Regions from separate parts of the Homo sapiens genome. Here region 1 is linked to region 2. A link means that fine-mapping ties the variant in region 2 to the plasma level of a protein whose gene starts in the linked region. Region 2 holds a variant in brackets. A gene starts in the other region. All regions are shown on their forward strands.

Region 1 (4,403 bases), not on the chromosome of region 2:
CAGGAGTTTACAAGCTAATGAGAGAACCAGCCATGTAAATATGGACACAAAGTGGATTAGATGTTTATTATATAATATGGTCAAAGTGTGGTCCCCATGGGTCTCTGAGACCCTCTTGAAGGGTTGAAAGGTCAAAACTATTTTCATAATTATACTAAGACATTACCTGACTTTTCCAGAGGCTACAGGATGTATGCTAATGCCACTGCCCTGAATGCTAATGGAATGTATGCTTATGTATTCTTGAGCTTTAGAAAAAAATCCTCAGTCTTAATTTCTAATGCATAAATTGCAATAGCAATATCAATAGGTAAAACCTACACAGGCAAAAGTTCTTTGAGGTCCTTGGAAATTATTAAGAGTATACAAGGGTCCTGAGACCAAAAATTTGAGAACTGGTAAGATTTAATGCATCAACTACCATTACACAGTGTCCTTGTTTCTCATCAATGCATTTTATATAGCAATTATTTTATCTAATCCCATGAAACTCACTTTATTGGATGCTTTTGCCATATCCTTATTTTCTAGCATCGTAGCTATTAGGTCATCTAATTATTAATCTGTTTGTGTCTTTGGGTTTAAATGTGTCTTTTGAGGCCACACAATGTTGGACTTCATTTTTTAATGGAGCCAACAATCAGCAATTGTTAATGCATTTGCTTTGTGTTCTATTACTCTGCAGTTTATCTTACTCATTGTTATTTTTGCTTTCTTTAAATTTATGTTTTCTTAATGGACTTTAAAATTCTTTATTTATTTTTTATGTCAGACAATAAACATCCCTAGTCTGCCCATCTTTCTATCATTTCAACATCATCATATTTCCAAATAACTTTTCATTGTTTCCTATAATTTTACTATTAATAGTATAGGATTAAGAAAATAAACCTTATCTGGGTTCTGGCTGGCACTGCCTTCCCTCTAGGGATGAAAATGGAGTGTAGTCTGTAATATATCCTGGTATCATAAATATATTTATAAAATTATACAAATGTAGCTTGCAGTTCTAAAGGCATGTAATCTAATTTTTACTTGAATTTTATCTTTTTTCTCTTTTTGTCCTTCATAGACCTCGAGCTCTGTCTAGCCCTCAACTGTTCTCAAATCTCCATTGTTTTCTACAAGTGACCCTCACAGCTGTGGGCCTTTGTTGACAAATTGTTTCATCTCCTCTGGGTCTTAAATTATTTTCTCTTACTCTAAAGTGAAAATTTGATGAATGTTTCCAGATACTGCACTTGGAATCATAACTTAATTTCCCTTAACCTTGTGTAAATTCTGTCCCCCCACTACTCCCAACTCCTATCCCTCCTCCAAAGCACTGATACTTATTATCACATTTAAATTTTTTCCCCGCTCTACTGATAACTTACAGAATGCAGGACTGCATTGTGATGGGGTAATTTCCATGAGTTGATTGGTTGGTTTTGAGTTGAAAAACTTAACAATGATACATCTTAAATTCTTTCTTTGAGGATTATTCCTTAATGAATTCGTGCTACGGACATACTGAGGTGGTTATTTTTATATTTCCCTGATAATAAATTCTAAATTGCTAAGGGTTTCTTACCACCCTCGTCCTTTTACTGTTACTAGATCTATTTTTAGCTGGTGTGGGCGTCCCCAGCTAGTTTCACTTGCCTAATGCTAGTTCTTTTTTCTTCTACATCAGGTCGCCTCTTCCTAGCATCTTCTCCATGTTTCTTGTTGCTCTACAGCATTTACAAGACCCAGTTTAATAGTTTAGTGCCTTTTTTGTCACTCATTATTTCTTCTTTGTTCTCTGTTAAAATAATAAGTGTATGATCCATTGCACTTGCCTTAGAGTCTTGAACCAGTCTTGGATTTCCCGCCATCTGGGTTCTGGCTGGCTTGCAATTTCTCCTTTGATGTTGTAATACTTTTTCATTGAACTTGAGTGTGGGGCTTATAGAGCTTCTTTGCTTTCATTATTTTTTCCCAAAATGTGCACATTTTTTTTCTTAAGCTTATTTTGCTGTTTTGTGCTGTTATTTTTAATTGCTTCCCACTGGGTGGGGGGGTAGGGGGACTGAGAGTGAGATTTGGCTTGAGTTTGGCTCTCTTTGCTATTACTCACATTTCCCCCCAGAAGCCCTACATGCACTCCTCTCTCTCTGTCTTTGACAAATTACTTTTGAAAGATCATTGATCCCTGGCGTAAATGGTGTTAAGAGTAAGATGGACTCGGGTAGGGATGCTCAGGAATCCAGTCCTGTACAGTCATGAGCTTGGCCATCTGGAAGTCTCCTCTTGCTCAATGAAATGGAGTAAACATTGTCCATTATGAAATCCACCACACAGGCTGCCAGGGACGAATGGGATCCCACCCAAAGCCAATCGCTGCTCTGACAGGGAAATTGGCTAGCACTGCCTGAGACTACTCCAGCCTCCCCCGTCCCTGATGTCACAATTCAGAGGCTGCTGCCTGCTTAGGAGGTTGTAGAAAGCTCTGTAGGTTCTCTCTGTGTGTCCTACAGGAGTCTTCAGGCCAGCTCCCTGTCGGATGGCTTTTATGAAAAAATATCTCCTCCCCATTCTGGGGCTCTTCATGGCCTACTACTACTATTCTGCAAACGAGGAATTCAGACCAGGTAAGTACCCATGCGTCTCATTTTGGAGGAATAGGTTTAAAAAACACAGGGGTGCTTGAGTGTTCCTGAGGACCAAGATGTGTTCTTGATCCTCAAAGTTGGTGAAAATGAGGGAACCCTGAGTTAAGATGGTATTTTTGTGTCCTCCAGCTACAGGCTGTGGACAGGGGGGACTGTGTAGGAAGGGTAATCGTGTAGCCAAAATCTAGCCAAATAGGCCATGCTTTATTTGGCACCCTTAATGGAAAGCAGTTTCAAATCTTCTACAAAAATGAGAGTAATACCCAAATTCACAACTCAGCAGCTAATTGGGCTCTATGAAGAGACTGATAAGTGGGAGGCAAAAAAAAAAAAAAAAAAAACTGGAGATGATGACTACATAGAAGTGAGGGAAAATCCCTGGAATTTCTATGAACACATGTGTTTTGATTCCTTGTTAAATGTACTTTCAATTGAGCAAAATTGAAAGAGTCCAGAAATGTCTGGAACTCCAGCATTTTAGCTGAACCATGACTTTTCTGGCTTCATCCTATGATCTCTTTCCATGGAGGTTTTTAGAAATGACAGTAGGGAGGCTGTCAGCCCAAACCTCCCACTTCAGAGCATGTTTATGAAAGACCTGGCCTGTTCCCACAGTGATTTACGGAGTTTGTGACAAACTGATCTGGGCTCATAACCTTTAAGTTACAAATTGCGATAAGCATGCCTATATCCAGAGAGGGAGAAGGAATTTTGCTGCCAACTTGGGTATGGTCCTCACTTCCTTTTGGGGTTCCCCAGAGATGCTCCAAGGAAAGAAAGTGATTGTCACAGGGGCCAGCAAAGGGATCGGAAGAGAGATGGCTTATCATCTGGCGAAGATGGGAGCCCATGTGGTGGTGACAGCGAGGTCAAAAGAAACTCTACAGAAGGTGAGGGTTCTATGCTCGCAGATATGTGTACCGTCACATGCTCAGATGTGTTCTTATATATGCTCACATATACACAGAAGCTAGCATATCGCAGATCTATATACAGAGGCACATGCACACACACAGACACTTAATTTTGCACTCTCATATATAGATTCAAACACCAAAAAACCCACAGGAATATAAAAGTATGCATTTAAGCATTCATTCATGTGTGTGTGTGTAATATATTCTGCAACAGAGTCCTTGAGTTATATATGCTCACAGACATGCCTAGTCACACACATTTACACATGGAACTACAGATACATACGGATGTTTTCAAAAACTGAAATCCCAGTACCTGCTTATGAATACATATCCTCATACCCATGCAGACTCCCAGACACATGCCCTCTCATGGACTCACAAACCCAAGGATGTACAAACATTCACAAACCTAGAGCTACCCACATAGTAACCAGCATCTACACTCATAATGCCCTCAGAAATGCCTATTCACAGAAGCCATGAGCATAAATCATGAACTTAAACCCCAGCACTGGGATGATTTATCCATTTGAACCCCACCAAGTTCCAGAAAATATTTCAGACAGAGGACGATGATCATGAGGGTTATATTAGGCAACACACACACAAACATACTTACCATTTCTTACCTAAACAGGGCTGTGAGCAATCTCTCATTTAAGCCCCCCGTTACTTCAGAGACTACCCCCCAAAAATCTGCAGCTAAGACTGATGCCATTTCTGCTGTATCACTGCAGGTGGTATCCCACTGCCTGGAGCTTGGAGCAGCCTCAGCACACTACATTGCTGGCACCATGGAAGACATGACCTTCGCAGAGCAATTTGTTGCCCAAGCAGGAAAGCTCAT
Region 2 (4,403 bases):
TGGGTTGGACTATGGCCTGCAACAGCCCCTAAGCACATTCAGGTTGTGTGACCTGGGCCTGTTCCCTGCCTCTCCTGGCCATTGCCTCTCAGCTTCCACCTGCTCCTGCCTCTTACAGGCTCACCCAGCTTGGACCCAGGGCTCCGGCTGGACCTTCAGCTCCTGGGTCTTGTTGATCTTCACACCAGGCTCTGCATCCTGGCCTTGTCTCTCCTCATTTTGGCCTTCAACCTGGTCAACCCAAGATTGAGCCAGGGCTTCTGGGCCCAAGGGGCATAAGAGAATAAAGCATTCTTGTTTAGCATGGACAGCCTGGGAGATGGGCAACCCAAGAAAACCCACTGGCAAGGAAGACTGCCCAGGAACGAAGAATCACACAGTGTATAGTGGATACACCATGGGCTTTGCGGTCAAGCCAAATTGGTCAGATCCTAGATCTGCTGCTAATTGTGTCATCTTGGCCAGAATATTGAAAGCCTCTGAGCTTCTTTTCCTTATCTGTAACGTGAGGACAACATAATCTCCCACATGGATTTATTGGGAGGATTAAATGAGAGCTTGTATATAAAAGTCCTTGCATACACCTGATTTGTGGTAGGTACGTAATGTTAGGCCCCCTCTCACCTCATCTATCCTTTCTTCTCCCTTTTATCTTATGTATATGTAGGCATAAAGTGAAAAGCAATGAAATGCTTTGCATATAATCACATGTAAGGTTAAGTAGTGCTAGGATGAATAATACTGCTGCTTTGCTGTGAGTGTCTGTTATAGCTTGGGGTACAGACTCATTTTCCTTAGGAAAAAGTCCCTCTTCCAGGCAGCTTGCCTCTGGGATAGAGGAGGAACCTGGGATCCATTAGGACTTCAGGCCATAAAATTTAAACATATTAGAATGCATAGGACGTTAGAGGGTTAGTCAGCAGCCAGCCATCATTTTTGCAGAGGAGACCCAGAACTTGACACCTAGAGAAGTTAAGTTGCCTGGTTTAATGTCACAGATCAGATCTACTGAACTCCCACCTGCTGCTTCTCTGAAATGAAAGATACCTCGAGAAGGTTGTTGTGTTTCTGTGTCAAAAGAATATAAGGGATGCAACAAAACATGGTCATACCTATGACCAGTATGAAAAAATATGCATGATAAAAAACACTAAACCAAAAAGAGGACAGGTATTTTAAAAGGCTTTTAAAAAAAACTGAATCTGTTAAAGTGATGCTGTAGTTAAATGCCACTATATCTTAAGAGAAAATTCTGCGTGGGCGTCAATACCACTGACAGATGGTGAGTTTACACAAGAGTGTCTATTGAATGCAACAGACATTACGTATCCCAAACAGAAACAACCAGAAATTCTGTTGCAGTGTGTGTTGAAGGTATGGCTAAGAATCCATAGCACGACTTACGTAAGAAAGGTAAATAATTACTAGTGTTTTCTTGCTGTAGCTGGTAAGTTAGTATATTTGTTCATGGAGTTGATTAGGATTGATGGGCTAAGAGGTCATTTGGATATATCAGTATGACAGACATAATATCAGGAAATGAACTATTTAGGGGTGCCAGGAGAGTCTTGATGGTTTGAGCAGACAGTAGACCAGTCAATATCAGACAGCGTGGTTACAGGCTGTGACAGGTGACCTGTTAGTGTTAATTTCAGACTTATTAGAAAATGTAGCAAGGCAACATTTGTAAGGACAGAGAACTTCAGCCCATTCATTACATTATTCACCAGCAATTGCTTAGCACTAAAAGGTTAGAATTGGAAAATGTCAGGGACATTGCAATTAGCACTGAGTACGGAATATGATTCTGTGCCTTGAACTGCTGAAAGTACAATGATTTTCATGACCCTCTTGAAACAGAACACCATATTCAGCTGTATTTCATGGAGTCTGGGGAGATCCATCGAGGGGGTTTAAAATTGGAAAGATATTTTGTTTTGTTTTGTTTTGTTGAGACAGAGTCTTGCTCTGTCACCTATGCTGGAGTGCAGTGGTGCTATCTCGGCTCACTGCAACCTCTGCCTCCCGGGTTCAAGCGATTCTCCTGCCTCAGCCTCCCAAGTAGCTGGGATCACAAGTGTGTGCCACCACGCCCGGCTCATTTTTGTATTCTGAGTAGAGACAAAATTTCACCATGTTGGCCAGGCTGATCTCAAACTCCTGACCTCAAGTGATCTGCCCACCTC[G/A]GCCTCCCAAAGTGCTGGGATTACAGACATGAACCACCGCGCCTGGCCAGAAAGAGTTTTTTTGAATTGTTGAAATAAATTGACTTGCTCATTGATCCAAGGAAAAATTTCCATGCCTTCTCACCAAAGACTAGGCCATCAGAAACAAAATCTGGAATATTTGTTTTGAAGGGTGTCTGTGCGTGAGATACCTAGACACTGTAGTTAAGAAATATAAGATGCAATGCACTCATTTCTAAAGAAATTACATCTGAGAAACTCATTTCATGGAAAATTATCTGACCCACTTAACTACACTGGAATGAGTTTCCAGAAATGAAAGTGATAGACGGAACTATATTCTTAAAATTGTCCATTTGTAGACCAGACTCCAAAAAATTGTATTTCAAACGTAATGAAAATGAAATAACATTGTTGAGTTTGCTTTCCTCAATTAATCTTGATAGGATAAAGGAAGCACTATAAATTGATATGCTTGAACTGTAGGGAAAAATAGTACTAAAAATTTACCATAACTATACTGAAGTCCCAGAAATCTAAAGGTGTAACTTTTCTAGGAATCCATGTCCAGAAAACAAAACAGAAGAGACATTGACATTTTGATCTAGAAACAGCAGTGCCTGGTTTCCAGAGTTATATTAAAGAAGAAATGAATTATTTAAAAAGTGTATTTATTAAGCATTCCTTATTCTCTACTTGCATTATATACATAGAAAATCTAGTCAATATTACATATATTTACATATAACCTGCTAACATTCAAGTTTAATAAAAAATAAATCTGGCTGGGTGTGGTGGCCCATGACTATAATCCCAGCACTTTCGGCGGTTAAGGCAGGAGGATTGCTTGAGCCCAAGAGTTTGAGACTAGCCTGGACAACATGACAAGGCCCCATCTCTACAAAATATTTAAAAAATGAGTTGACCCTGGTGGTACATGCCTGTGGTCCCAGCTACTTGGGAGGCTGAGGTGGGAGGATTGCTTGAGCCTAGGAGTTGGAGGCTGCAGTGAGCTATGATTGTGCCACTGCATTCCAGCCTGGGTGACAGAGTGAGATTCTGTCTGAAAATAATAATGATAATAATAATAATAATAAAATAAGAATAAAGTGTATATGCCAACTTTTCTTAAATTTTGTCCACTCATTTCTGTTACCTGCCTGCTGTATAGGCATGTGACTTTCAATCCCTGGCCTGAGAGTCCCTGAACTTGAGGGAGGATTTGTTTCTGCACATCATGTGGCTGCTGCTGGCGGCTGCGTATCTGAGCTCAGGAGCGGAACACCACTTGGCCTGGGCAGAAACCCAGAGTATTGCCACAGAGAGGGCAAGCATCCAGGGACTGATCACATGAAGCTCCATCCACAATACTGTGTGGCACAGCCATGCAAGAGATACAGTTAACTACTAACAGTTTTCAGTTTCCAGATGCCTGGCCTTGACACCAGAAGTGATCATCAGCCCCTTTGTGCTGAGCCAGACTGGAATGGAAGAGTATTTTCTTGAATGAGAAGTGGAGGTCCCTAGAGGGAGATACTTGACTTCCTGGGACAAGTAGGGGCCTATGTGATTGATTAAAACAATAAAAGATAGAGTCATTCATATTTTTGTTTTTAATTGACCTCACGTGGATAGAATTAGATTAATTAGAACTCGATTTGTAACACACTCTCATCATGGCCTTCTTTGAGCGTGTGAGTGACTGCATTTGTTTAATTATTCAAAGAGATGAATGCATTCAAAGTCCAAATTTTATACTGAAGAATACTGTGCACCACGGTGAACTCTACTCATATGAGATCTAAAAGAAGCCCACAGAATGGACAACCAGTATTTATTGAGCATCTATTTGACTCAAAGTCCTATGCCGGGCCCTTTGCAAACATTTTCTATTTAATTCTCCCCAAATTGTCCCTGGGTAACTGCTTCTTATCCTCCCTGCCTCACTCCCTCCTGCTACTGTAAACTGGCTGGTCAGAAATAGAATTGCTGTGAGCGACAAGAACATTGCAGTGCAATATTCTCAGGTGGTTGGGTGGTTTGCTATTGGGTGACTTTCAATTTTCACAGCCGAACTTTAAAGTCTCATTAAAACAGTTTTTTGTTGCTGTTTGCTGAGTTTACGTCAGCAGCAATTCAGCAAATAAGCAGACACAGCAGATTGCCTGTTTTGGCAGGTCTAATAAGAGACCTACAAAAAATGTGATTGCGAAGGAA

Which allele goes with the higher level. Positions count from the first base shown, and alleles are read on the strand shown. Strength reflects both the effect of a copy and how common the allele is.
In carriers of allele G in region 2, the plasma level of the protein whose gene starts at base 2,431 in region 1 tends to be lower than with A alone (weak association).

Evidence for each region. A credible set is the group of variants that fine-mapping cannot tell apart. PIP is the chance, under the fine-mapping model, that this variant and not a neighbour inherited with it causes the effect. The UK Biobank Pharma Proteomics Project read protein levels with antibody pairs (Olink). The fine-mapping took linkage between variants from a reference panel, not from the people measured, so its PIPs are less certain.
Region 1: HSD11B1 starts here. The variant in region 2 is the best candidate, but not a certain one, in a credible set for the plasma level of the HSD11B1 protein (UK Biobank, PIP 0.50).

The regions. Positions count from the first base shown.
Region 1 is chr1:209,702,416-209,706,818 of GRCh38, forward strand. It overlaps HSD11B1 (hydroxysteroid 11-beta dehydrogenase 1), which reads left to right and starts at 2,431. Exons shown (of 6, transcript NM_005525.4): 1 at 2,431-2,615; 2 at 3,396-3,526; 3 at 4,294-4,403. The coding sequence starts at 2,528. All of the region lies in intron 1 of HSD11B1-AS1 (HSD11B1 antisense RNA 1), which reads right to left.
Region 2 is chr8:9,313,662-9,318,064 of GRCh38, forward strand. No RefSeq gene overlaps it. Among named protein-coding and RNA genes, the nearest start is that of PPP1R3B-DT, 160 kb to the left of the region's middle. The variant G/A (reference allele first, on the strand shown) is at 2,187.